Regions from separate parts of the Homo sapiens genome. Here all the other regions are linked to region 1. Evidence: fine-mapped expression QTL. A gene starts in region 1. Each other region holds a variant in brackets. All regions are shown on one strand. Distances are between the middles of the regions.

Region 1 (8,481 bases):
CATCTGAAAGATGAAGGTCACAGTTCCACACACTCGCACAGTTTTATTGAATCGAAGCTCCAGGTACTGGGTATACAGAAAAAAAGATTTTTCTCCTGACTTCACCCCGACAACTCACAGACAAATTCCCTCAAGATGCTCAGGAACATGAGGGAATATCCAACCCATACCCACTCTGAGTCCTACTCGGCATAGCACCCTCCTCTCCAATCCTGCCCCTATACCTAACATCACTGAGAAAGAATTATAAACACACAATGAGTTTTCTGTCCCTCTCATTAGGTGGAGGAGGTCTAGGGTCCCAGGTCCTTCCTATGTGCCTGTCCCTCCTCTCCACCCCAACCCGTGTCCCACGCACTTCTCCCTTCTGTCCCTGCTCACCTCATAGGCACTGGTGAGATGCAGGCGGTAGAAAACGGGGATGAAGATGTGTGCAGGTATCAGCAGCCCCAGAAAGTAGCAGCAGCCCAGGAACCAATATTGGGTCCCAAATCGGTAGATCTCTGACGGCACACCCAGGATGGCCACGGCTGACTGGAAGGTGGCCAGCAGGGACAGTGCCACCGGAAGGCAGCCCATTTTGCGGTCCGCCATCAGCAGCTCACCAACAGTATGCCGGCCCCAGCCACGACAAGCATGGTAGAGCCCAATGGCAAGAGAGAGAACCAGCAGCAGGACGAACACCACATAGTCCATGATGGAGAAGGTAGACATGCCCACGCTTGTGCCCGAGGTTGGGGAAAGAGGGGCTGAGGTGCTCACCCCTACACTCATATCCTCACTGTGTCTGTGATCTGCAGCCAGTTGCTGCTCCAGGGCTCTGGGGTAGGGCAGGGGCGGATGTGTGGCTACAATCTGGCTTCCAGCCACAGTCTCACAGTCTTCCTCCACGGAGTGATACTGTCCAGGGTGAGCTGCAAAGGAATTAGCTCTTAGTGAGGCCTATCTGGCCTTGGTAGCCATTCACCCTTGGGCCTTGTACATCGCATGCCATCAGAAGTGGACCAGCCAGCATAGTGGTAGCCCTTCAAGGTCTAGAGGCCCTGGTATGGGTTTGGTAGGGGACATAAGTGAGGGAGAAGCATCAGAGTGCGACAGCCAGGAGACAATATAACTTGGCCAGGACCTTTGAGTATGCACAGCTGTGAAATTCAACAACCTTCTTAGGTCTCCACCCGAGTACCAAAAGAAAAATAAACTCTAGCCTAAGTTTCTTAGCAGAATTTCCCAGCCCCACTTGAAGGCACAGACCCAGTCACTACAATACACTAAGCCAGCAGAGCCCAGCCTGGCGCCACAGCCCAGCAGGAAACACAGCATGGAGACTAATGGCAGCAGGGCTTCCCCTACTGCCCCTGGCCTCGGCCCTCGCCTCCTGTGATCCCCAGTGTCACCCTTCTAACTGATCATCAGTGAGACTGCCTCTGTGGCAGCCACAGACTCCATTTCAGGCGTCCCCAGGCCAACCCCTTTCTTAAGGTTCTCCCCAACACCACTAGATAAGTGCTGCCACCCACCTCTCAGCCCCTCTACCTGCAACATCACAGTCAACAGCAGACGCAGGAAGAGCGGCTGGATTCAAAAGTGAGAGGGGAAAGGTGAGAGGGCACCATGCTGGAGTCAGGGTTTCAGAATGACGATTCTCCATTCTGGAGAGAAGCAACCCAGTCACGGAGCTGAGAGGCAAAGGGACCAGCCAAAGAGAGTGGTCGTATCCTGCTGGGGACAGACACCTACCTGGAGAAGCAATCCCTGTTCTGAGGCAGAGTTGCCTGGAGCTGCAGAGCTGAGGATCTGGCTCTATGAGTAGCTGAGGTGAGAGATCAGGAATTGGGGGTGGGGTGAAGCTCAGCAGTCATTTGTTCTGGCCCCTTCAGGGAACCAATGGCTGTGTTCCAAATGGCCCTATCACCCTATGGCCCCCAAACTCCAACTCAGCCCTAGAGGCTCCAGAACAGGGAAGAGGGAGCTCATATTCAACAGCATTCCTAGATGGATTAGCCTTTCAGCCTAAAGTACTCTTGGCACTCTGTGCGGGAGGGAGTTGGAAAGAAGGAACTGAAAACATGGGAAAGTTGAAAGTTGATTTTCTAACTCCTGCACAAGAAATGTTAATCCCCCAAGAATACACCACAATCCTCAGAGAAAGAGGGAAGGGATCATAATATTTAAAATCTTAAATCTTTGGACACCACTATTACAACCAACCCCCCACCACTGACGATTTCACAGATAAACACGCTAAGGCTCAGATGGTTCAAGTGACCTTTCCAAAAGCACAGAGCCGACTATTGTCAGAGCATAAATTAGAACCCAGGTCTAGGGATTCACCATCCACCCTGTCTGTTCTCCAAGCGTATCATATTGTCTTCAAAGGCAATCCTCTGGGGTACTTATTGGTATGAGGAAAAAACACCAGAGAATGCCATGTAGTTACACAGCCTAACATGACGACAGTTAACATTTGCTGAACACCTGCTATGTAACCCAGCAGTGTGTGAGGTGCTTTATAAACATTAGTAATAATACATAATGAAGCTAACATTTTCAAAACAGCATGTCTCAGATTAAGACACGAATACTCTCCAGTTAACACAAGAAAACTGAGAGATTAAATAACTTGCTCAAGGTTATGCAGCATGATACAAAACAAGAGAGAGAGAAACAGTGCTGTCTGCAGCTATGACAGGTGTTCAGCAAGGGCCCTGTCCTCACTATTCCCAGAACCAGGACAGGAGCAGAGTGTTGCAGTCAGTCATTCACAGGACATAGTTTAGATTTCAACTAATCAAGAGACAGACTAACATAAACTATGTCTTCTGCTTTTGCCCACTAGGAGAAAGATTAGGCTGCCTTTCCGCTCTCCCACAGTGTGTTCTTGGGCAGACACTGGCTGGCTGGCAAGATATGGCCTCATGCAGACTAAACCTGAACTCTGAACCTCTTGGGGCCAATAAAGAGGGAAAATCAGACCTGGCAACTCTTGGATCACATGTTCTACAAGATTCCCAACAGGCTTAAACTCTGGTTTAACCTAAACATGCCCTGGGCCTTTGCACATTGCAACACCCTGAGTTTTCTCATTCGTCTTTGGCAAGTTTTTACTGCTATGATAGAGATGATGGGAACTACTGGGGAGTAAGAGGAAAGAAGAGGTCTCCTGTGTGCAAAGAACACAGAACAAAGAACTAACTATAGGGTTAGTGGTTTAGAGAGGTAGGTGGCCAGAGACAGGAAGGAAAGTCCCAGTATGGGACACGGAGGTACAGAAATAAAGACACTCTGCTGATGGGACTTCCTGATAAAATTCTATTTGCATGATGTATGGAGAATTCCCCTGGATGGCCTGAGAGAGCCCCAGGGAAGACAGGAAAAACCTGACCTAGCAACAGACCAGATTCTGAGAACAGATCTGTAGTTTTCTAAACACCCTACATTGATCCAAACGCTATGGTCTCGCATCTCTCCAGAAAGAGGGCGGCCAAAAGCAAGAGCTAGCTGTTGTTTCACTACAACTATAACATGCCAAGGCACAAACAGCAGATTGTGGGACCCCCCCCCCTTTTTTTTTGGAGACGGAGTCTCGCTCTGTCGCCCAGGCTGGAGTGCAGTGACACGATCTCGGCTCACTGCAACCTCCACCTCCTGGGTTCAAGTGATTCTTCTGCCTCAGCCTCCTGAGTAGCTGGGACTACAGGCATGTGCTACCGCGCCCAGCTAATTTTTTTTTTTTTTTTTTGTATTTTTAGTAGAGACGAGATTTCACCATATTGGCCAGGCTGGTCTCAAAACTCCTGACATGACGATCCACCTGCCTTGGCGGATCGGTGGCCTGGCCACCGCGCCAGGCCAAGTTCAGGTTTTTAAAAGGGGTCCCACATCACTGCCTGTAATCCCAGCACTTTGGGAGGCCGAGGCGGGCAGATCACGAGGTCAGGAGATCGAGACCATCCTGGCTAACACGGTGAAACCCCGTCTCTACTAAAAAATACAAAAAATTAGCCAGGCGTGGTGGCAGGCGCCTGTAGTCCCAGCTACTCGGGAGGTTGAGGCAGGAGAATGGCGTGAACCCGCGAGGCGGAGCTTGCAGTGAGCCGAGATCGCGCCACTGCACTCCAGCCTGGGCGACAGAGCGAGACTCCGTCTCAAAATAAAAATAAAAATAAAAATAAAAACCTGAACTCACTTTGGTCACACACTGCAGTGGATCGCATTGACTCCTACAAAAGGCAATGAGACCACTGCAGGACTAACTGTTCCAAAAAGATTCCCTCAAAATCTGTCCTGGGGCCTATAATTCCTCAAGGTGTGAAAGGCTTTGGGGGCCCTCCTTAAAATGCTAATAGCTACTAACACCTTAGAAAATTTGCCAGCCAGCTAAACGTAAACCTTTCAGGAACTTCCAGGCAGACACCATGGGGGTAATGTGGAAGGGAAGCCTGGCTCGGCTACTCGAGATGATCACTTGGGTCGGCTTTAAGGAGCTTTCTGGCTGGCCCTAACCAACACTGTCGCGCCGGGAGCAGGGATCCCCTGGCGCCCTTCAGTCAGGGCGCTGGCCCACCCTGGGGCAGCAACGCACTCCCTTACCTCCGTGGTTCAGTCAGAGCTAGGAAGGTCCCTTTGTGCTTCCTGAGATCAACATCGCTCCCTTTTCCTGGGAAGGCAAAGAAAATGAGTTAGGGAAGCGTCTATCCCGCTCCTACCTCCTCGCCAGGCTCCGGGACGCTATGCGCTATCAGCATTGAGGTGAAGAGGACTAGGTGCCCGGGGCGATCCAGGCTCGTGTCCTCCCGCTGGAGTTTGAGGTTTGCCCTTCCCTCATCACCCTCACCCTCGTTCTTTCTCGGTTTCCCGCTTCCCTCTACGCGGCGGAGACCACCACCTTACCGCTCGCACTTAAGATCTCAGACCCACGCCGGAGGCCGGCTCGCTCCGCCCCTCCCCGCCCCCTTGTCCCCGCCCCGGCTCAGACGCCGCTCCCCGGTGCCTCTCGGCACCGGCTCACGCTCTCCAGGCCCACCTGCCCGGTCTCCACACGTGGGTAGCCAGAGCCCGGCCGAGAGCCCTGGCCGGGAGCCCGCGGGGGCCCCGCCCCCTGCCCGCCCCCTGCCCGCCCCGCTCGCCGTGCCGCCATGTTTACTGAGGGCGGATGGAGGGGCCCGAGTTTCTGCGAAGCCGCGACCTCGGCGTCCGGACGCGGGGAACACCGGGCTGAGGGAGTCTGCAGTCGGCTCCGGGAAGCCGCGCGGCGACGGGGGAGGCCTTCACTAAAGGGGAAAAGGAAGAGGGGGTCGGCCAGTATCCCCGAAAGAGGGCTAGGGCGCATGAAGACCAGCGCAGAGCTCCACGAGCAGGAAAAGCCCCCAAGCAGCCCCAGGGCGACTGGACCGGGCCGCTTAGGCCACGCCCGGGGAAGAGGGCCTGACGCGCTGCGGGGCGGGGCCGCGGGGCCGGGTCGCGCGAGCAGCGGAGCACCAAGGGAACGGAAAATGGCGCCTCACGACCCGGGTAGTCTTACGACCCTGGTGCCCTGGGCTGCCGCCCTGCTCCTCGCTCTGGGCGTGGAAAGGGCTCTGGCGCTACCCGAGGTACAGAAGCAAGTTTGAGGTCGGGCTGAAGCAGGGTCGCTGGCCAGCCGTGCGTCGCGCTCGCCAGCGGCTCCCCCTTCTCCTCGGCGGGCCTGCGGTTCTGATTTCGTCCCTGACGCTTCCCGACCCTGCCCAGCCAGGTCCTGTTCCCAAGTACTCACGTCGTGCAGGCCTTCGGCGCCCCAGTCCTGCCGACTTTCAAAGACCTGTGAAACTTGATTTCGCCCCTTAATTTTAGAATAACTTTAAGTTCTTTCTACAGACGGGTCCTCTGCCTCTTGTGTAATCTCTCTACGCACGAACGCCATATATCGTGCGGTGGTAGGGCTGTACTTTTGTAATGCTTGATGAGTTCTTTACGTACCTGCGGTCGTTTTACACCGCGCCAAACTAGGGCTGTCAGATTGAGAAGTCTCTGCAGAAAGCATAATAAATAAGTTCGAATAGTGATCTTCAGAGATGAGGACCTTCCCTGTGCGATATCTGGTACTGAAAGTGTCGGGAGCTGATTCGGCGCAGGACTCTGGAGGAAGAGATGGCATCTCCTAGCCTAGCCTGTTACAAGGGTGGGACACGAGCCGTTTATCCATTTATCGGCCCCGTGTTAGAGGAATTCTGGAAACGTGTACTGGCAGTTAATTCTTGATCGCCGTTTGTTCTTTTCTTGGCTTTTCTTTCTGGAGTTCTAATGTTTCTTTCTCTTCTGCAGATATGCACCCAATGTCCAGGGAGCGTGCAAAATTTGTCAAAAGTGGCCTTTTATTGTAAAACGACACGAGAGCTAATGCTGCATGCCCGTTGCTGCCTGAATCAGAAGGGCACCATCTTGGGGTGAGGGGAAGACATCCCTAGATGCTGGATACAGGCCATTCCTTAGCCTGGCTGCTTTTATACCCTTATATTATTTAAAGAATCCACCTATTATGGTTTCAGCTGTAATCATCACGCAGATGTCTACCAAAACTAGATCTCTTTAGTGTCTTTTTTAACCTTTCCACACTCCAGGTACATACGGGTACCTCTAGCTTCCTATTAAGCATTTCCTACTGAGTGCACCCTAACTTCAAACTCAAAATGTTATGTTTTGCTTCCATTCTCTTCTTTCCTTCATCTACCTAAATACTTCTCTGTATTAAGCTTTTAGAAAACCAACATTTTCCATTATCACTCTCTTGCTTTAATACTATATTTAGTATTAAATTTTGTCTCAGGACAAAATTCAAACCATTAAGTACCATACTAGTCCCAACCCACTTTTCCAACATTATTTCCAATTACTTGTCCGCTCAAACCTCCATAATGGTCTGCACCAGCCAGATTTGCCTGCCCTCAAAGGCATTCCACCTTTGTTCAGGCCTCTCTCCATACCTGAAATTGCCTTCCTCTACCAAATTAGGAAATATCCATCCTTCAATTCCAACATCTTTTGTGAATATTTACTACTACTAAGTTCCAGAGTAATACCTTTTTTAAATTATTATTTATTTATTTTTTTGAGACGGAGTTTCACTCTTGTTGCCCAGGCTGGAATGCAATGGCATGATCTCGGCTCACCGCGCCCTCCACCTCCTGGGTTCAAGCGATTCAGTAATACCTTTTTTAAAAACTTCCTGTAATCTTTAGTGTCCACTCAAATATATTTATACACTGTCCTGTGGTTTCTTTTATATTGTAATTTAATGTTTACAGTGCTTTTATTTTTGGGCAGTGCTCTTGTTCCTCTAACTACATTGTAAGCCACTCAAAGGCCAAAATACTGTGTTACATATTTTTAACATTCTCCCAGTGTTTGCAGTTTGTAGGGACTCAGTAAATATTTGTAGAATAAAGGAATGGATAGCAGTAGATATTGAAGAAAAAAATAACGTGGCATGATCCTTAATGTCCAGCAGTTTACAACCAATCTGTGGTAGAAAATACATGTGGAAAAAAACTTTGATTTATGTGACTTTTTTTTTTTAATTTAAAGGCCCTCTGTGGATCTGAAAATCATAATATGAGATTCACTAATGTAGACAAGAAACACAGATTTCTCCCAATAGATGCATAACCGATTAGAACAGTGCTGGCGGATAGAACTTTCTGTGATTATGAAAATGTTCCGAGCCAGGCGCGGTGGCTCATGCCTGTAATCCCAGCACTTTGGGAGGCCCAGATGGGCGGATCACGAGGTCAGGAGTTCAAGACCAGCCTGACCAACATGGTGAAACCCCGTCTCTACTAAAAATACAAAAATTAGCCAGGCGTGGTGGCATGTGCCTATAATCTCAGCTACTCAGGAGGCTGAGGCAGGAGAATTGCTTGAACCCGGGAGATGGAGGTTGCAGTGAGCCGAGATCGTGCCACTGCACTCCAGCTTGGGCAACAGAGTAAGACTGTCTCAAAAAAGGAAAATGTTCCGTATCTGTACTAACCAGTACAGTAGCTACTAACGTGGTTATTCCATTTGCACTTGAAATACGGCTAGTGCAAATGAGACACTGAATTTTTAGGTTAAATTAATTTTCTTCTATAGAGTCAGGGTCTCATTCATATTGCCCAGGCTGGTCTTGAATTCCTAGGTTCAAGTGATCCTCCCCCGCTTGGCCTCCTAAAGTGCTGGGATTACAGGAGTGAGTCACTACACCCAGCCTAAGGTACATTAATTTAAATTTAAGTAGTTACATGTGGCAAGTGGCGATTCTATTGGATAATGCAGAATTAAAATGTCTACCACAGCTCCTAGTGTGTGACTCTGAACACAGCTGTGTTCAATTATTAGCTGAAAAGGGGGTTGTGTAGTCAAATACAAACTGTGCCGTGGCTGAAGAAAAAGAGGAACACACAGTTATATTGATTACTTTATTTCCTCAGGCTGGATCTCCAGAACTGTTCTCTGGAGGACCCTGGT
Region 2 (10,384 bases), 25 kb after region 1:
GTTTTGTTTTGTTTGAGACGGAGTCTCGCTTTGTTCCCCGGGCTGGAGTGCAATGGTGTGATCGCTGCTCACTGCAAGCTCCACCTCCCGGGTTCACGCCATTTTCCTGCCTCAGCCTCTGGAGTAGCTGGGGCTACAGGCGCCCGCCACCACTCCCGGCTAATTTTTTTGTATTTTTAGTAGAGACGGGGTTTCACCATGTTAGCCAGGATGGTCTCGATCTCCTGACCTCGTGATCCTTCCGCCTCAGCCTCCCAAAGTGCTGGGATTACAGGCGTGAGCCACTGCGCCCGGCCATTAAGATTTCTTAGTTGTGAAACACCATGAATCCCACCATCATGTGACTTGCCTTGAGAATCTCCCAGAGTCTTGACTATAAACCATAAGCATTATGGGCAGTGCCTTCTTCCCACCCCTTCCACCTCCACACCTTCATTCCTTCCATTCTGTTCTTCCAGGTGAAGTCATGGGCATTGGGCGTTCATTTGAGGAGGCCTTCCAGAAGGCCCTGCGCATGGTGGATGAGAACTGTGTGGGCTTTGATCACACAGTGAAACCAGTCAGCGATATGGTAAGTAGCTCCCCTCCCCTGGCAATACCCCTAAAATAGACCCTGCTTCTCATCGCCCCCAGACCATGAGCTTGTTACCAGTAACACTAGCAGCAGTCATCATTGGACATTTGCTTTGTTTCCACTTTGCTGAGAATTTTGAGATGTCTCATTAGCACGCAAGGGTGTATTACTAGACTTGTTTTTACAGATGAGGAAACTGAGACATAGGTTATAGAAATTACTCAAAGCCACATAGCCAATGAGAGGTAGACCCAGGATTGGTATCCAGGTTTTTGCAGTTACACAGCCTGTGCTCTGGTGTACAGTTTCCCCTTCCTGAGACAAGAGCAGCTACTTACGCTCAGGCTTTTAGATGGGCTGGCAGTAGCTTCCGTCTGTCTACCCCCTTTCTATCAGGAGTTGGAGACTCCAACAGATAAGCGGATTTTTGTGGTGGCAGCTGCTTTGTGGGCTGGTTATTCAGTGGACCGCCTGTATGAGCTCACACGCATCGACCGCTGGTTCCTGCACCGAATGAAGCGTATCATCGCACATGCCCAGCTGCTAGAACAACACCGTGGACAGCCTTTGCCGCCAGACCTGCTGCAACAGGCCAAGTGTCTTGGCTTCTCAGACAAACAGATTGCCCTTGCAGTTCTGAGGTCAGAGGTGGCAATGAGAGCTTCCGGCTGGGAAATGTGGGGCAGAACCTTTGTATCAGTGAGGGACCCTTGGGAGGGAGGAAGGAGAGTGTGGGAGAGCTTTAGAGGCTTCTGACCTTGGTTCCAAGGATATTTCCTCTCATCTGTGCCCTGGGGTCTCAACCCTCTATCAGTCTGTACCCTACTCTCTGGGCCTGTGTTTCAGACCCTTTTTCTATTTTAGCACAGAGCTGGCTGTTCGCAAGCTGCGTCAGGAACTGGGGATCTGTCCAGCAGTGAAACAGATTGACACAGTTGCAGCTGAGTGGCCAGCCCAGACAAATTACCTATACCTAACGTATTGGGGCACCACCCATGACCTCACCTTTCGAACACCTCATGTCCTAGTCCTTGGCTCTGGCGTCTACCGTATTGGCTCTAGCGTTGAATTTGACTGGTGTGCTGTAGGCTGCATCCAGCAGCTCCGAAAGGTCAGAGAGTTCATTTTCTTTCCACTTTCCTTGCTATTCTGTTCATCTCTAGCAATTGCTTGGCACTAATCCTGGCATTTCCTATTAATTGCCGTCCCTTACTTTGGTCATAGAGCTTTGGGGTGGGGGTCCTTTTAGGCCATCTCTCATGCCCCACACGGTATATGAATCTCTTCCCCAACACTTTGTACCTCCTTCCCTCCCAAGGCAGGGGTCCTGTACAGCTCTTTCAGAGGAAGCTGTGCTGGCAGTCTCTGAAGTAGGGGCTTTGGCTTAGTTTCTCCACGATTTTCTCCACGATTTTCCTCCCACCTGACTGCTAAGTACCCTTCCCCTCCCTCTTGCAGATGGGATATAAGACCATCATGGTGAACTATAACCCAGAGACAGTCAGCACCGACTATGACATGTGTGATCGACTCTACTTTGATGAGATCTCTTTTGAGGTGAGGGAGATGGAGGCTTCCTGGTAGCTTGAGTGGCCAGGGTCGAGTAGAACAGCTGGCTGACCTAAGATTCTTTGAAACTTGGTGGCGGCTGAGGGAAGCAGTGAGCAGGAAGGCTCAGATTCCTGCCCTCTTTTGCTGCCACCACTTGTTTCTCCCCCTGCAACGTAGGTGGTGATGGACATCTATGAGCTCGAGAACCCTGAAGGTGTGATCCTATCCATGGGTGGACAGCTGCCCAACAACATGGCCATGGCGTTGCATCGGCAGCAGTGCCGGGTGCTGGGCACCTCCCCTGAAGCCATTGACTCGGCTGAGAACCGTTTCAAGTTTTCCCGGCTCCTTGACACCATTGGTATCAGCCAGCCTCAGTGGAGGGAGCTCAGTGACCTCGAGGTGGGCTGGGACCTGGTGGGTTACCCGGAGGCTGGATGATGCTTGGGGGAAAGTGTGAACAACTCAGCTAAGCTCCCTGCCTCCTGTAGTCTGCTCGCCAATTCTGCCAGACCGTGGGGTACCCCTGTGTGGTGCGCCCCTCCTATGTGCTGAGCGGTGCTGCTATGAATGTGGCCTACACGGATGGAGACCTGGAGCGCTTCCTGAGCAGCGCAGCAGCCGTCTCCAAAGAGCATCCCGTGGTCATCTCCAAGTTCATCCAGGAGGCTAAGGTGGGAGGCTGCAGACAGTGAAGTCTCTGAGGGCATGCTGCCAGCCCTGGAGGAGACTTCCTTCTCTGGTCCAGCAGAATCATAGGCACCAGGGCTGGGAACAGTGGGCTATGTGGGGCTCGTTAAAGGAAGAGACAATCCTAGAGTAAGTGAGAGAAGAAAGTGGCCCTATGTCCCACTGTCTGTGTCCCCCCGCTAGGAGATTGACGTGGATGCCGTGGCCTCTGATGGTGTGGTGGCAGCCATCGCCATCTCTGAGCATGTGGAGAATGCAGGTGTGCATTCAGGTGATGCGACGCTGGTGACCCCCCCACAAGATATCACTGCCAAAACCCTGGAGCGGATCAAAGCCATTGTGCATGCTGTGGGCCAGGAGCTACAGGTCACAGGACCCTTCAATCTGCAGCTCATTGCCAAGGTAATAAGGCTAAAGGAAAGAACTAAAGGGCCACAGCTCTTGCATGTTCTGTGCTGGCCACAGTGCCATGAAGCCCTGCACTGTCTCCTGCCTTCATCCAAGTAGGCAGGGAAGCTGGAGGGAAAGGGCTGTAGCTAGAGCTCATGGTGTTGGGGCTTATGACAGTCAGTGACCCTGAACCCTGCTCAGTCTGATCCCCCAGAGCTGAGGACGGAGAGGAAGAGTCTAGGCCTATAGATAGTGTCAGCAAGGCCAACCTGCAGAAGGCCTGACCAGTCTTCTCTGCCCCAGGATGACCAGCTGAAAGTTATTGAATGCAACGTACGTGTCTCTCGCTCCTTCCCCTTCGTTTCCAAGACACTGGGTGTGGACCTAGTAGCCTTGGCCACGCGGGTCATCATGGGGGAAGAAGTGGAACCTGTGGGGCTAATGACTGGTTCTGGAGTCGTGGGAGTAAAGGTAAGGAATATCGAAACCCTTGGGGTTAGCAGAAAAATAGCGGGAGAGAGTTCACTCACCACACAGAGTTGTCAGTATGTAAACCAGGCACTGACTGCAAGGCATTGCCGGATCGTGGGGGTAATGAGGTGGTCATTGTCCCTTAAGAGCTTACTTTATGGTAATGGGAGGGAAGAGAAGTTGGATCCCCAAAAAAGCTTTGGTATAGAACAGTCCGTGGTAAAACTACATATTCGACCTGTAAACAGAATGCTGCAGGAGTTCAAGAGACAGGAGGTGCTGCTTCCAAAAGGGGTGATCTGGGAAGGCTTGAGCGAAGGGGTGCTATTTGAATTGAGTTTTGAAGGATGGTTAAGGTTTTTTATTTGCAAGGGCACATCCTAAGCAGAAGCTGAGGGATGACCCCAAGTACGTTTGGAAAGCAGGAGGGCACACAGAGAGGGCAGGCTGACCCTGCCATTCAGATGGGATCAAGCACAGGGTACTGTGTCCGTCTCTGCTGGTGAGGGAGGAGGTCCTCTCACACCTTGGCCCTCTCTCTTCCCTCCCGCCCCTTTAGGTGCCTCAGTTCTCCTTCTCCCGCTTGGCGGGTGCTGACGTGGTGTTGGGTGTGGAAATGACCAGTACTGGGGAGGTGGCCGGCTTTGGGGAGAGCCGCTGTGAGGCATACCTCAAGGCCATGCTAAGCACTGGCTTTAAGATCCCCAAGAAGAATATCCTGCTGACCATTGGCAGCTATAAGGTATCAGAATCCAGGAGGGCTTCCCGAGGGCCGTGGCTCCCTGGGCCAGGGCTGACCTTGAAATGGAAGACAGGAAGAAAACAATTTCATCCTTCTGTTTGGTTTCAGAACAAAAGCGAGCTGCTCCCAACTGTGCGGCTACTGGAGAGCCTGGGCTACAGCCTCTATGCCAGTCTCGGCACAGCTGACTTCTACACTGAGCATGGCGTCAAGGTGCAGGAACTCTGGCAACCTACCCCACTGCTGCCCTTCCCCAAGGGGGTGAAAATACTGCACCAAAGAATTATCTGGGCTGGGCACGGTGGCATATACCTGTAGTCCCAGATACTCAGGAGGCTAAGGCAGGAGAATCTCTTGAGCCCAGGAGGTAGAGGCTGCAGTGAGCTGCGAGTGTGCAGTGAGTGCACCACTGCACTCCAGCTTGGGAAACAGTGAGATGCTGTCTCAAAAAAAAAAAAAACAAAGAATTATCTCCTATTCCCCTGCTTTTATTA[T/C]TACCATTATACTAGTAAGCTATATTCCATGCAGAAAGCAGAATACACAGGAAGCAAAGAGAAAAGTCTCTTAAAATCTCTGTACCACTGTTCTGATATTTTTCCTTCCAGGATTTTCTCTGTGTACATGTGTGTGAGCTCATACTGCACCTAGTCCTTGGTAACCCATCTTACTTAGTGTAGATATCTTTCCTGCCAAGAAATACACTTTGCCAGTATCAAATAGAGGCAGCCCTCAGTGCCCACCCTATGGGTCCTCAGTCTCCTCATCATGGGCTCCTGGGCCAGCTCCTCTCCCTTAAGGCTAGCCTTCCTGACCGCTGCCAGACAGCTTGGCCCTGACCTTGACTCCGGGTTGGCAGGTAACAGCTGTGGACTGGCACTTTGAGGAGGCTGTGGATGGTGAGTGCCCACCACAGCGGAGCATCCTGGAGCAGCTAGCTGAGAAAAACTTTGAGCTGGTGATTAACCTGTCAATGCGTGGAGCTGGGGGCCGGCGTCTCTCTTCCTTTGTCACCAAGGGCTACCGCACCCGACGCTTGGCCGCTGACTTCTCCGTGCCCCTAATCATCGATATCAAGTGCACCAAACTCTTTGTGGAGGTAACTGAGACCCATGTGCTGGGAGGGAGACTGCCAGTGTTGATGGGAAGAAGAAAGAGGGAGGAGTGAGTATGGAACAGCCATGCTAGTAATAAAGCTTTGTGGCTACAGAGGGAGAGATGGTGGGTATAGAGTGTGCAGAGCCTGGTTTATGGGAAAACCACATCTCTCCCTACAACTCCCAGGATCACCCTTCCCTTAAAGCTGACTGCTTTCCACTTGCAGGCCCTAGGCCAGATCGGGCCAGCCCCTCCTTTGAAGGTGCATGTTGACTGTATGACCTCCCAAAAGCTTGTGCGACTGCCGGGTAAGTCTTTGGGGAGAACTTGGCTTCTGAACACTGGCAGCCCCTGGCATAGAGACCTGCAGTGTGGTGAAGGATGGCTGGGGGGCCCACTCTTTGTCCTGGACTGCACAGACTGTGAAGACCCCAGAATGTTTCTCACTCTTTCATTCCTTAATCCACAGTGTCCACAGTGGCCTTGTCTGAGGAATTTTTTTTTTTTTTTTTTTTTTGAGACAGAGTCTTACTCCATCGCCCAGGTTGGAGTGCAGTGGTGTGTGATATCGGCTCACTGCAACCTCCGCCTCCCAGGTTCAAGCGATTTTCCTGCCTCAGCCTCCCAAGTAGCTGGGATTACAGGTGTGTGCTACCACACCAGGCTAATTTTTGTGTTTTTAGTAGAGACGGGGTTTCACCATGTTGGTCAGGTTGGTCTCGAACTCCTGATCTCAGGTGATCTGCCCACCTCGGCCTCCCAAAGTGCTAGGATTACAGGCGTGAGCCACCATGTCCAGCTCACCCTTCCTATTTCTGAATCTTCCTGTAATCTTGCTGCTTCCATTTTCTCCCAGGATTGATTGATGTCCATGTGCACCTGCGGGAACCAGGTGGGACACATAAGGAGGACTTTGCTTCAGGCACAGCCGCTGCCCTGGCTGGGGGTATCACCATGGTGTGTGCCATGCCTAATACCCGGCCCCCCATCATTGACGCCCCTGCTCTGGCCCTGGCCCAGAAGGTGAGCCACTGCACTCTTCCTGGTATTGGAGACCCATATGCCCCTACCAGCCACCCTTGCTTCCCTGAGCCCTTTTCCTTCTGCCCCGCCCTATGGGCCCAGGCCACTGGTGCCAGGCTAGCCTGTGTGGGCATGGGTGCCAGTGAGCCTTACCTCTGTGTATCCTCTCCAGCTGGCAGAGGCTGGCGCCCGGTGCGACTTTGCGCTATTCCTTGGGGCCTCGTCTGAAAATGCAGGAACCTTGGGCACCGTGGCCGGGTCTGCAGCCGGGCTGAAGCTTTACCTCAATGAGACCTTCTCTGAGCTGCGGCTGGACAGCGTGGTCCAGTGGATGGAGGTAGGGAGTGTGCATGTGGCAGGAGGCCACCACCCAGTGTCTCCTGGCTTGTGGGCCCCTGCCTAAGTGGGCTGGTAGCAGTGAGGATTCAGGGGAGCTCCTGGGGACTCTGGGCTCTGATGAGCACAGTCAGAGATTCTGCACACTCCTTCATCAGTTCTTTCTGCTCCCAGCATTTCGAGACATGGCCCTCCCACCTCCCCATTGTGGCTCACGCAGAGCAGCAAACCGTGGCTGCTGTCCTCATGGTGGCTCAGCTCACTCAGCGCTCAGTGCACATATGTCACGTGGCACGGAAGGAGGAGGTAAGAGTACACCTGAGATCCTGCTGTCCCTGTTGCTTTCCCAGTAACACCAAAGGTCAGGGTAGTCCTTAGGGGCAGGAGACAGCAGGAGGAGAGTCTGGAGACAGCAGGAGGAGGGTCTCGAGCCAGCACCCTTGCAGGTCTACATCATCATTTTTTGAGCAGGGATGTTGGCCATTGGGACTTTGTGTAGGGCAAGGCATATGGGTGGTGCCTCTTCTGGATCTTCCCATTGTTCCCCAGATCCTGCTAATTAAAGCTGCAAAGGCACGGGGCTTGCCAGTGACCTGCGAGGTGGCTCCCCACCACCTGTTCCTAAGCCATGATGACCTGGAGCGCCTGGGGCCTGGGAAGGGGGAGGTCCGGCCTGAGCTTGGCTCCCGCCAGGATGTGGAAGCCCTGTGGGAGAACATGGCTGTCATCGACTGCTTTGCCTCAGACCATGGTGAGAGAATCCAGCATGTACCTCCTCTGCCCAGTGGGGCTTGTGGGACAGCCCTAGCAAGAAAATGGGAAGCAGGCCAGGCCTCAGGACTCTACTAGGACAGGGTCTTGATCCGTATGGGACCCTAGCCTCTAGGGTACCTGGTCTGTGATAGGTGCCTGATAAATACTTGTTGAAAGAATGAATGAGCCAGTGAGTAGAACTGCAAGTGAAAGAATACATGGGTAAAAGTGTGGGCTCCAGAAGATGGCAGCAGTCCTGTTGCCCTTGTTTCTAGTTCCCAGAAAAAATGAGCATTGGGAGTGGTAGTGAGCATAAGGAGGTTGTTGGAAGTGCAGTCCTGGGGTGTGAGTGACTTCCTAGACATGGAGGTGATTGGTCCTGAGGGTAATGGCTTTCTTTCTCCCAGCTCCCCATACCTTGGAGGAGAAGTGTGGGTCCAGGCCCCCACCTGGGTTCCCAGGGTTAGAGACCATGCTGCCACTACTCCTGACGGCTGTAAGCGAGGGCCGGCTCAGCCTGGACGACCTGCTGCAGCGATTGCACCACAATCCTCGGCGCATCTTTCACCTGCCCCCGCAGGAGGACACCTATGTGGAGGTGTGGGGATGAGGCCCAGAGCAGGAGGGGGGCTCTCCAGCCCTAGGATATGTTCTCTGGGGATCCTTTCCCTAGCATAACCCATGTCCTCTGGGCAGGTGGATCTGGAGCATGAGTGGACAATTCCCAGCCACATGCCCTTCTCCAAGGCCCACTGGACACCTTTTGAAGGGCAGAAAGTGAAGGGCACCGTCCGCCGTGTGGTCCTGCGAGGGGAGGTTGCCTATATCGATGGGCAGGTACGCAAGTAGCCCCTGCCTGATCTCAGTAGTGCCCTCTTCTGCACCACGTTCATTTCTTCCCTTCCCAGCACATCTACACTGTCCCACTATGTGCACCACTGCCCTGGACCAGGGGTTGGGGGCACAGCTCCCCCAAGGTGCTTTTTGTCCTTGCTGACATCTACCCCTTTAGGACCTGAGTTCTCTCTGCTCCCTCCTGAGTGCCCTGCCTTCTGCCTGCAGGTTCTGGTACCCCCGGGCTATGGACAGGATGTACGGAAGTGGCCACAGGGGGCTGTTCCTCAGCTCCCACCCTCAGCCCCTGCCACTAGTGAGATGACCACGGTATCCACACTACTGGGCTAGGGGGCTGGGAGGTGTTAGTCTCAGGGCAGGATGAACAGCTTGAACATTTTCATTGGTGGTTCAGGAACAATTGGGGTTTTCTTGAGGGACTGAATTTGAAGTGGGGTTGGGTCAATTATTTTTTTAAAATGCTGGGCCAGGCCAGATGTGGTGGCTCACACTTGTAATCCCAGCACTTTGGGAGGCCAAGGCAGGCGGATCATCTGAGGTCAGGAGTTTAAGACCAGCCTAGCCAACATGGTGAAACCCCATCTCTACTAAAAATAAAAAAATTAGCCAGGCGTGGTGGTGCACATCTGTAATCCCAGCTACTTGGGAGGCTGAGGCAGGAGAATTGCTTGAACCCAGAAGGTCACGCCACTGCACTCCAGCCTGAGCGACAGAACGAGACTCCGTCTCAAAAGAAAAAAAAAAAAACAACTCTGGGCCAACGTTATCCCTCCAGACACCTGAAAGACCCCGCCGTGGCATCCCAGGGCTTCCTGATGGCCGCTTCCATCTGCCGCCCCGAATCCATCGAGCCTCCGACCCAGGTTTGCCAGGTAAGAGTGGGGTTCCTGTGACTCAGAGACTGTGTAGGGACAGGATCCACTTCTTCCCAGTGCCTCGCCTTTCTCTACTTACATGTCCTCCTCTCCATCCCTTTATCCTCGTCTGATCTGCCGTGCCATCCTTTGCCTAAACAAGTCTCCCCGGTGTGAGTAGACATCTCACAGCTTCTCACATGCCCTTTTTTGTTGTGGGCAGCTGTGTTCCTCCGCCCAGGAGCTGGGATCCCACGGGGCAGCAGAGCGTGGGGTAAATCCAGGTTGTTGGTTGGTGTGAGTCTGGCCGTTCCTCTTGCCTAGGATGCCTTTGCCAACTGGGAGAGCCCCGGGAGGGCACCACTGCTCCCATACAACACAGCCCCATGGGAAGCCACCTGTCTGTCCCCAGAGCTGCTGCAGTCCCCTGCCCTCCCCTAACCTGCTATATTACTGTGTTGTGAATTGGTTTAACATATACACTGTGATTCAGAGTTCCTGGGAATATGGGGTTTCTTTCCAAACCTCAGCCATAAATGTATATCTGTCCTCTTGTCCTGTTTGCAGCTGAGGAGCCAAAGGAGAAGTCCTCTCGGAAGGTAGCCGAGCCAGGTGAGACTCCACCCTGACACACACTCACCTCGGGGACCTCTGATCTGGCCTTGGTAGGAGGAACCCTCTGACCAGCCTTTTCTGCCCCATCCCTCACTGCAGAGCTGATGGGAACCCCTGATGGCACCTGCTACCCTCCACCACCAGTACCGAGACAGGCATCTCCCCAGAACCTGGGGACCCCTGGCTTGCTGCACCCCCAGACCTCACCCCTGCTGCACTCATTAGTGGGCCAACATATCCTGTCCGTCCAGCAGTTCACCAAGGATCAGGTGCCTGGGGCAGGGAGGATGGGACCACCCAGAGCTTTGAGGATTTGGAAAGCTGGGGCTAGGACCTTTCTAGCTAACTTGGGCTCTTTCTTAGATGTCTCACCTGTTCAATGTGGCACACACACTGCGTATGATGGTGCAGAAGGAGCGGAGCCTCGACATCCTG
Region 3 (10,384 bases), 310 kb after region 1:
TATGATGGGGCAGGGTTGGGTGGGACCTGGCCTCAATGCTTAGGCTGCCAGAGGAGGGCATTTTGTAGAGATATGGAAATGTGCAAGGGTACAGGCTGCCTTTTCTGTGTGCTTCTGCTCCTCCTATTAGGTGCATCTTCCCCTTAAGGAGTGTGTGTGCACACATGGGTGTGTTTGTGAAATTGTAATTATTAGGCAAGACTCTTTCAGTTACAAACGTGATGGAAAACGAGTTTATACTGGTTTAAGCTAAACAAAGAAAATGGTGGCTGATATAACTGAACAATCTTAGGGCAGCTGAATCTAATGTGTTCCAGAACTTTCCACCCTTAACTCTGTTTTCCCCTGTGTTGCTCTCATTCTTTTTTTTTTTTTGAGATGGGGTCTTGCTCTATCGCCCAGGCTGGAGTATAGCGGTGCTATTTCAGCTCAGTGCAACCTCCGCCTCTGAGGTTCCATTGATTCTCCTGCCTCAGCCTCCCGAGTAGCTGGGATTACAGGCACCCCCCACCATGCCCAGCTAATTTTATATTTTTTAGCAGAGACAGGGTTTTGCCATGTTGGCCAGGCTGGTCTCGAACTCCTGACCTCAGGTGATCCACCTGCCTCAGCCTCCTAAAGTGCTGGGATTACAGGCGTGAGTCACTGCACCCGGCCGTTGCTCTCATTCTTAGGCAAGTTTTTTCCATTAGGTGGCAAACTGGCCACCAGTAGTGCCAGCCTGACAATTTACGTAGCAACACTAGTGGGCAAAGAGCTTGCCTGTCCTGTGGTTCTTGCAAATGCCTGGTTGGGGGCTCTTGCTTGGGACACATGCATGTCCCTGAAGCAATCACTGTTCTCCAGAGCAAGGGATGCTCTGCCCAGTCTGGATCATGTGCTTTCCCTTCAGGATGGTGGTGGAAGAAGGGCTGGGAGGTGAGCCTCAATCCAACCTCATTACCTGAGCATGGGGAAGCGATAGATCCTCAGAGGAAAACCAAGGTGCTGATACCAGAAGGAGTGGATGTTGAGCAGACGGCACAACAGATGGTCATGAAAATGGGGTCGCCAGATTCGGCAAATAAAAATACAGGACGCCCAGTTAAATTTGAATTTCAGATAAATATGGAATAATTTTTCCATCAAGTATGCCCTATGCAATATTTGAGATATTTTTGATTTTTTTCATTATATATTTGGATGTCCTGTATTTTTATTCACAAAATCTGGCAACCCTATGTGAAAGGAATCAATCAATGAACATTTAGTGAGCACCCACCAGGTCCCCAAAATAAACTATGGTCCTTACTGAAGTCCAGTGGAGGTATAAAGAAGGTGGGGGTCAGAATGCATTATAGCAAAAAGAAGGCCTCATGGAAGGGGTGGTATTTTGAGCTAGGCCTGGTGGTTATGGCTTGGATAGGTGGACAGAAGAGCATTCCTGTTAGGTCATTCACCAAGTCCCAGAAGGGGGACTGGGCATGATATGTGAGGGACACAGGTCTAACCAGAGTGGCAAGTCACTTTAGAGCGCAGTGAGGGATTGTGAAGAAGTAGGAAGGGGAGGGATGTGGGAGGTTAAAGCCAGGCAGGAATTTGGACTTTGCCAAATGCAGCTAGACCTGCGCTGTCCAAAACATTGGCCACCAGCCACATGTGGCTATTGAGCACTTGAAATGTGGCTAATGTGACTGAGGAACTGAATTTTTAATTTTATGTAAAAACCAAAGCTGTATACTTTTTAAATTAAATGTAACTTTAATATTTTGGTAGGACTACATTTCTCTTTTTAGCATTGCAAATCTAGCACCCAAATTGAGGTGGGCTGGCTGGGCACGGTGGCTCACGCCTGTAATCCCAGCATTCTGGGAGGCCGAAGCAGGCAGATCACTTGAGGTCAGGAGTTCGAGACCAGCCTGGCCAACATGGTGAAACCCCGTCTCTACTAAAAATAAAAAAAATAAAAAAATAGCCGGGCATGTTGGCACAGGCCTATAGTCCTGTCTACTAGGGAGGCTGAGGCAGGAGAATAGCTTGAATCTGGGAGGTGGAGGTTTCAGTGAGCCAAGATAGTGCCACTGCACTCCAGCCTAGGTGACAGAGTGAGACTATCTCTCAAAAAATAAAATTAAAATTAAAAAAAGCCACAAAAAAACAAATTGAGGTGTGCTCTAGTTGCAAAATACACACTGGATTTCAAAATACAAAATCCGAATATAGAAAAATATTGCAAAATATCTGACTAATAATGTTTAATATTGTTTACATTGGGTTATATATTGGGTTAAATAAAATATATTATTAAAATTGATTTCAGGCCAGGTGTGGTGGCTTACACCTGTAATCCCAGCACTTTGGGAGGCCAAAGCGGGCAGATCACAAGGTCAGGAGAAATAGGTGAAATCACATTTTTTTTTTTTTTGAGATGGAGTCTCACTCTGTCACCCAGGCTGGAGTGCAGTGGCATGATCTCGGCTCACTGCAACCTCCACCTCCTGGGTTCAAGTGATCCTCCTGCCTCAGCCTCCTGAGTAGCTGGGATTACAGGCATGCGCCACCACACCCAGCTAATTTTTTTTTTTTTTTTTGTATTTTTAGTAGAGACGGGATTTCACCATATTGGCCAGGCTGGTCTCCAACTCCTGACCTTGTGATCCACCTGCCTCAGCCTCTCAAAGTGCTGGGATTACAGGTGTGAGCTGCTGTGCCTGGCCAATTTCACCTATTTCTTTTTTTAATGCAGCTACTGAAAACTTAAACTTACATATGTGGTTTGCATTATATTTTTTTCTTTATTTTTATTTTTTTTAGAGACAGGGTCTCACGCTGTTACCCAGGCTGGAGGGCAGTGCATTGGCACCATCCGGCTCACTACAGCCTCAAACTCCTGAGCTCAGGCAATCCTCCCACCTCAGCCTCCTGAGTAGCTGGGACGATAGGCAGGTGCCACCATGCCCAGCTAATTTGTTTTATTTTTTGTAGAGATGGGGTCTTGCTGTGTTGCCTAGGCTGGTCTCGAACTCCTGGGCTCAAGTAATCCTCCTGTTTTGACCTCCCAAAGTGCTGGGATTACAGGTGTGACCCACTGTGCCCAGCCTTGCATTATATTTCTACTGGACAATGCTGAGCTAGACAGAGAGGAG[G/A]GTAGTGACAAAATGGAAGCAGTGTTTGCAGATGAACAGTCTTACATTAGTGTGCAAGATGGATTTGGTTACAGAGGAAACTAGAGAGAGGGAGTCCAGATTACCAACCTACAGGATTGGTGGGACACACATGCAAATTTGAGCAATTTGCCATTAATCCTCCAGTTTAACCCAGCCAGTCAAGCCCACCACCAACCCCTTTAACCTAGTTTTTCTTTACACCTGGGAATTACAATTTAGGATTGCCAACATGGACAAATCATCTACAGCCTCTATAGCCAGGCCTCGGGATCCCAGCCTCTCACTCTCATAGTTTATTCTTCTCCCTTGACTCCATTCTTAGTTCCTCTGGCCTTTAGCCTGACACTGATCTTACCACTTCTTCCTTAGCGGTTCTCTGGACAGTCCAAGGCTCGATGCATCGAGAGCCTCCTCCGAGCGATCCACTTTCCCCAGCCACTGTCAGATGATATTCGGGCTGCTCCCATCTCCTGCCATGTCCAGGTTGCACATGAGAAGGAACAGGTATCCTGCCCACTGCTGGTCATTCAACAAATACTTTTTGAGTACTTTCAGTGTGTCAGGAAGTTTGTTCGGCACTGGGTTTACAAAGCTCAGTGGCACTCTGCTCACAAGGACCTCCACATTCATGGGGTCTTTGGACTGGGTTTTGAAGGATGAATAGGAGTTTTCCTGGTCAAAGTGAAGGTTTCTTTCTGCTCTTAATCCACCTTGTTACCACCTTCTAATCTTAATAACATCCTATTTGCATCTAACCTAGTGGCTCCTGATTCCTGTATCAAATGCTTTAACTCCTCCAGGGTTCTGTTTTTTTTTTTTTTTTGAGAGAGAGTCTTGCTCTGTCACCCAGGCTGCTGGAGTGCAGTGGCGCGATCTCGGCTCACTGCAACCTCTGCCCCCGGGTTCAAGAGATTCTCTTGCTTCAGCCTCCCAAATAGCTGGGATTACAGGTGCCAGCCACCAATGCCTGGCTAATTTTTGTATTTTTAGTAGAGATGGGGTTTCGCCATATTGGCCAGGCTTGTCTCAAACTCCTGAACTTAAGTGATCTGCCCACCTCGGCCTCCCAAAGTGCTGGGATTACAGGCGTGAGCCACTGCGCCCGACCTTCCTCCGGGGTTCTTTCTCTGATGACCTCATTCCCTCAGGCTTCAGTGCCCACTGCCTCTTCCCCACAGGTGATACCCATCGCCTTGCTGAGCCTCCTATTCCGGTGCTCGATCACTGAGGCTCAGGCACACCTGGCTGCAGCTCCTTCTGTCTGTGAGGCTGTCAGGAGTGCTCTTGCTGGGCCAGGTCAGAAGCGCACTGCGGACCCCCTCGAGATCCTAGAGCCTGACGTTCAGTGAACCCATGTTTCTGGGTGGGTGAAAGGGGCCCAACCCTGCCCACTTCAGCCCAGCCCGCCCAAGGGGACTTGTGCCAGCAGAACATGTGGGAGGAAGAAGCCCCGTTTCCAGGGCATCCGCAGCCCAGGGTAGGGAGAAATATTCTCTCCACTTTGGGGGAGAGTTCTTGCTCTCGACCTAGTGGTTTCTACTCTCACCGACTTATTCTGATTTCAGAAATAAAATGAAATGTCTTATTTTGGAAAGTTAACCTTTCAAAGTCAGTAAATCAAACAGTAGATCAGAGGTGGGATAGGATGGGTGGCATGGGTTGGTCTTAACAGCAGATTTGTTTCTTTAATTCTGTCCCCAACTCCATTTCATTGGTCCCTAACACAAGCCTTATACTGGCATCCCTATATTTTCATTACCAACATGCAGCCACGTGTGCATGCGTGCACACACACTCCAATCCCACACAGACACACAATGAGAGGTGGGAACTTTTAGATAATTCCAGGGGAAGAGGGAAGAAGTTGTGTACCTAACATAGGAAACCCAGAAAAAGGGCAGTCTTAATCAGACATGACAAGATCTAGAATGACTGCTACATCCACGCATTAGACCATGAAATGAGGGTCACATCCCCTGCCCCGTGTTTGTAAGAGGAACATAAGGAACTCTGGAGGTGCTGAAAGCCCTTGGTGGTGGGACCCAACAAACACTAGAAACCCCGGGCTGTACATTTTAGACATCAGCTACCCCATGTTTTGACAAATCAAAGACACCCTTGTTCATCCTAGATTCATGCCAGCTCTTTAGGGCCTGTGATATATGGCCCTGACAGTAGAGAGCTGGTTCCTCCTTGTGCCTGAGAAATATCCAGGTAATAGATACTCAGGAACATTCCTCTGGGGATGAAACTCTCTGGAAAGGTCCCTGGAACTTTTAGGCAGGAGGGTGACTGCAAAGGAGCCAGATTTTGGTTTTATGAGGATAGAGTAATCAACCTTTTTAAGGTGGCCATAGGCCCCTCTGTGCATCTGAGGGCCTGCAGCCTCTATGTGAGCTCTGTTTTCCTGTTCCACATCTTCACACTGATGCCTTGGATGATCAGTAATCCCCCTTTCCCCAGCCACTACTCTCACGATGCTTCCTGAGTACCACCCCTTTCATCTTCCACAAACACCTCTCCCAAATTCAAGATGGCTAAAGTTAGGAAAGGCTCCTGCAAAGTCCCTCTGCTTCTCTTCACCCACAACTCTCTACCACGTTCTTTCATCGGGTCAGTTCATCTCTCAGCATGGTGTCATGAACAGTGTCAAGTCTGAGAAGATACCTAGCATTCTGGGACCCCAAAGGGCAGAGCACCCCTTGATCCTGTTGATGATGCCAACTGTACAGTAGCTCCCCTCCCACATTTGGAGGGGATAGGGCACAGGGTTAGATTTCTCCAGGGCTGGATGCAGAAGAACTCTAGAAGCCCTGAGTTCTTTTAGTTGCCAAGTACGTGGATGGCATGAAGACATCAAGTGAATTCAATTCTTATGTAGTTGGACACAATATTCAGGTATTATGAATATTGTGGGACATTATTGTGGGACATTATGAATATTGTGGGATAGCCTTGGGGGACATTAGAAGCTAGACACACTCTGGCATTGTGGCAGAGATGAAGATGACTAAGATCTGATGCCTACCCCCTAGAAACTCACAAGCACATAGCAATTAGAATACAAGACAGAGTTGAAGTGGATTAAACAGCGGGATAAGTACAGAGAGCTGCTGAAATTACAGGGTAGGCCAAGAGTCAAGGAAAGTTTTGGAAGAAAGGAGGCTGGGGTGGGGTAAAGGAACAGCCAAAGAAAACGCAAGAAGGTTTGAAGATTCACACTGGGATATGGATCTGATAGCAGAGAATCTGGTCATTGTCAATGGGATTTGTGCTCCAGGCAGAGCTAAAGAAGTTCAAAGATTTTTTTAGAACTATCCAGACACAAATGATAGGGTGACAACTTTTGCAGTTATTTGGAGAAAGTAAACATCTGAGGGCAAAAACAGCAAGAGAATAATCCATTATTAATACAAGGCAGTAATTATGTAGAAAGGACTAAAGGGCCTGGGCCTGAAGACTGGATTAGATTGTGGAAGATGAAGAAAACAATTTCCCAGCACATATATTTGCTGGATCAAAAGCAAAAGGGGGCTAGGTGTGCCATCCTAGCTACTTGAGAGGCTGAGATGGGAGGATCACTTGAGTCCAGGAGTTCAAGGCCAGGCTGGGCCACATTACAAGACCCTGGCTCTAAAACAGAAAAAAAAAACAAGAGGGGGTGGGACAAAATATATTTGGATATCGCACATACTCTAAGCCTGACGTTATACACACACACACACACACACACACACACACACACACACACACACATATATATGGAATATATAATATATATCCATATATATATATGGAACTCATGAACTCGTCTCCAAAATCTAGCTAGCTATTCTTTTCATAATTTAGATGGTCTCTCTCTCTTTTTTTTTTTTTTTAAGGAAAGTGTCTCACTATGTTGTCCAGGCTGCAGTGCAGTGGTGCGGTCATAGCTCACTGCAGCCTCGAACTCCTTGGCTCAAGCAATCTTCCTGCCTCAGCCTCCCGAGTAGCTAGGACTACAAATGTGCACCACCACACCTGGCTCATTTTTAATTTTTTTTTTGTAGAGATGGGGCCCTGCTATGTTGCTCAGGCTGGTCTTGATTCCTGGCCTCCAGTGATCTTACTGCTTTAGCCACCCAAAGTGCTGGGATCGTGTGTGTGAACCACCACACCTGGCCAACATTCGTCCGGTCTAACATTCAGATTGTTTTGAATGTTACACAGCCTGGAGCCAGCTCTTGAATATTAGATAAGCTATAACGTTGAAAGAGGATGTTGGGACCAGGTAGGAGACAGAGGGGTCTCCATCTGGTTCCAGGGATGGGCTCTACAAATACAGCAAAATGCCTAAGATCCAATGGAAACTTAGGGTTGGACCCAATTGGACAGGTGAGTCAAATCCTAGGGTTGAGAGGACAGGTACTATATCTAGGTGATGCAAAATGCTCCCATCCTGGGAGAGAGAAGTGGGTCATTTTTAAGCTAGTAACTGGGGTGCTGTGGAAAAGACAAGGAAAAAGACAGGAAGAGGATCCCTGGAGCATCTTGTAGTCACAGAAAGTAAAGAATTGCTCAAAACCTCCACAAGGATGACAATATGTCAAAGGGATACAAGAGCCAATGTGAAAGAGCTCCTAGTGCCTAAAGTGGGAACAATTTGAGCAACAAAATAAGTAACAAGCTGGTCATGGTGGTAGGCGACAGCAGTCCCAGCTACTTGGGAAGCGAGGTGGGAGGATCGATTTCTTAAGCCCAGGAGGTTGAGGCTGCAGTGAGCTGTCATCATGCCACTGCACTCCAGCCTGGGTGACAGAATGAGACCCTGTCTCAAATAAATAAATAAAATTAAAAAAAACACTTGGTTTAAAAAAATACATGAGTACGCGTGAATTCGTACCGTTATAAGCAAATGATTGAATAAATAAAGTGGGGGAAAGTACCAATTTTTCCTAAAGAAGAATTCTAAATAAACACACACGCGCGCGCACACACACACACACACACACACACACACTCCTTTAGGAAATGGAGCTTAATCATCCCACACCACCTCTCCTCCAATGTGGGTTAGATTTAGGGGCTCACTTACAAAAAAACAGAGTATGGGAAAGGGAATGGGTTTTACGGTGGAGAAACCAGGCAAGCACTACCCTAATCAAGTAATCAAGATGGGCATCACCAGCAGGTATCACGCACCTCCTGATATGATATCATGAGAAAGGCATGTCACCTCTGTGGTATTCTTCCCCCAAACACATAACCTCAGTCTAAGCATAAAGAAAACATCACAGTAACCCAGCTTTAGGGACATATTATAAAATACCTGCTCATATTACAAAATACCTGAAAATTTTCAGTCATGGAAAACAAGAAAAGACTGAGAAACTGTCATAGACCAGAAGAGACTCAGGAAGCATGACTCACCTACAGGGTGCTACCCTCGGTTGGATCCTGGAAAGATAAAGGACTTTAGTGGCAAAACTGGTGAAACTGCATGAAATCTGGAGTTTAGTTAATAGTAAATATACCAATGTTAATCTCATAGTTTTGACAAACGTACCAAACTTATGTAAGATGTTAATGTTAGGTGAAACTAGGTGAAATATATATGGGAATTTGCTGTACTATCTTTGTAACTTTTCTGTAAACCTGAAATTTTTCAAAAATAAAAAGTTTATTCAAAAAATAAATTTAAACTGAAAGCCTTTCCTCTTAGATCTGGAACGTGACAAAGATCCCCACTTTCACCACTGATATTCAACACAGTACTGGAAGTCCTAGCTAGAGCAATCGGACAAGACAAAGAAATAAAGGGCATCCAAACTGGAAAGGAAGAAGTCAAATTATCCTTATTTGAAGGAGATGTGATTTTTTTTTTTTTTTGAGACAGAGTCTTGCTCTGTTGCCCAGGCTGGAGTGCAGTGGTGTGATCTCGGCTCACTGTAACCTCCGCCTCCCGGGTCCAGTCGTTTCTTCTGCCTCAGCCTCCTGAGTAGCTGGGATTATAGGTGCACACCACCATGCCTGGCTAATTTTTTGTTTTTTTGTTTTTTTGTTTTTTTTTTTAGTAGAGACGGGGTTTCACCATGTTGGTCAGGCTGGTCTTGAACTCCTGACCTTGTGATCCACCTGCCTCAGCCTCCCAAAGTGTTGGGATTACAGGCTTGAGCCACTGCACCTGTCAAGATCTCTACAATGAAAGCTATAAAACACTGATGAGAGAAATTGAAGATGGCACAGAAAAATGGAAAGATATTCTATAATCATGGATTGGAAGAATCAATGTTAAAATGTCCGTAGTACCCAAAGCAATCTACAGCTTCAATGCAATCTCTATCAAAATATCAATGACATTCTTCACAGAGATAGCAAAAACATCCTAAAATTTATATGGAACCACAAAAGACCTAGAATAACCAAAGCTATCCTGAGCAAAAAGAACAAAACTAGAGGAATCCATTACCTAACTTCAAATTACATTACAGAGTTATAGTAACGAAAACAGCATGGTACTGGCATAAAAACAGATACATAGACCAATGTAACCGAATAGAGAACTCAAAAACAAATTCACACACCTGCAGTGAACTCGTTTTTGACAAAGGTACCAAGAACATACATTGGGGAAAAGACAGTTTCTATAATAAATGATGCTGGGAAAATTGGATCTCTGATATGGTTTGGTTCTGTGTCGCCACCCAAATCTCATGTTGAATTATAATTCCCAATGTTGTGGGAGGGGCCGGGTGGGAGGTGACTGGATCATGGGGGTGGAGTTCCCCCATTCTGTTTTCATGATAGTGAGTGAGTTCTCACAAGATCTTATGGTTTAAAAGTGTGTGGCACTCTCCCCTTTGTGCTCTCTCTCTTTCCTGCTGCTATGTGAAGAAGATGTTGGCTTCCGCTTCACCTTCCACCATGATTGTAGGTTTCCTAAGGCCTCCCAGTCATGTTTCCTGTTAAGCCTGTGAAACTGTGAGTCAATTAAACCTCCTTTATTCATAAATTACCCAGTCTCAGGTAGTATATCCATATGCAGAAGAATGAAACTAGACCCGTATCTCTTGCCATATACAAAAATCAAATCAAAATGGATTAGAGACTTAAATCTCAAACTATGAAACTACTATCAGAAAACACTGGGAGAAACTCTCTAGGACATTACCCTGGGCAAAAGTTTCTTGAGTAATTCTCTACGAGCACAGGCAACCAAAGCAAAAATGGAAAAATGGGATCACATTAAGTTAAAAAGC

Evidence for each region.
Region 2: its variant is fine-mapped to the expression of SLC5A6 in aorta (GTEx, PIP above 0.99). The same link has a PIP of 0.9 or more in fibroblasts, lung, pancreas, sigmoid colon, spleen and sun-exposed skin.
Region 3: its variant is fine-mapped to the expression of SLC5A6 in whole blood (TOPMed, PIP above 0.99).

The regions. Positions count from the first base shown.
Region 1 is chr2:27,206,877-27,215,357 of GRCh38, forward strand. SLC5A6 (solute carrier family 5 member 6) reads right to left here and starts at 5,392. Exons shown (of 17, transcript NM_021095.4): 1 at 5,144-5,392; 2 at 4,591-4,657; 3 at 382-914; 4 at 1-66. The coding sequence starts at 774. ATRAID (all-trans retinoic acid induced differentiation factor) reads left to right here and starts at 5,165. Exons shown (of 7, transcript NM_001170795.4): 1 at 5,165-5,591; 2 at 6,301-6,422; 3 at 8,445-8,481. The coding sequence starts at 5,493. RefSeq lists enhancers at 3,235-3,294, 3,249-4,046 and silencers at 4,829-5,148, 5,339-5,588.
Region 2 is chr2:27,231,010-27,241,393 of GRCh38, forward strand. CAD (carbamoyl-phosphate synthetase 2, aspartate transcarbamylase, and dihydroorotase) reads left to right here. Exons shown (of 44, transcript NM_004341.5): 16 at 459-571; 17 at 971-1,215; 18 at 1,439-1,685; 19 at 2,033-2,131; 20 at 2,303-2,527; 21 at 2,617-2,799; 22 at 2,999-3,217; 23 at 3,509-3,676; 24 at 4,236-4,418; 25 at 4,527-4,631; 26 at 5,275-5,514; 27 at 5,740-5,821; 28 at 6,370-6,536; 29 at 6,709-6,873; 9 more. Among named protein-coding and RNA genes, the nearest start is that of CAD, 19 kb to the left of the region's middle. RefSeq lists an enhancer at 473-1,672. The variant T/C (reference allele first, on the strand shown) is at 4,913.
Region 3 is chr2:27,518,945-27,529,328 of GRCh38, forward strand. GCKR (glucokinase regulator) reads left to right here. Exons shown (of 19, transcript NM_001486.4): 18 at 3,516-3,650; 19 at 4,325-4,740. The coding sequence ends at 4,495. Among named protein-coding and RNA genes, the nearest start is that of SPATA31H1, 13 kb to the right of the region's middle. The variant G/A (reference allele first, on the strand shown) is at 3,126.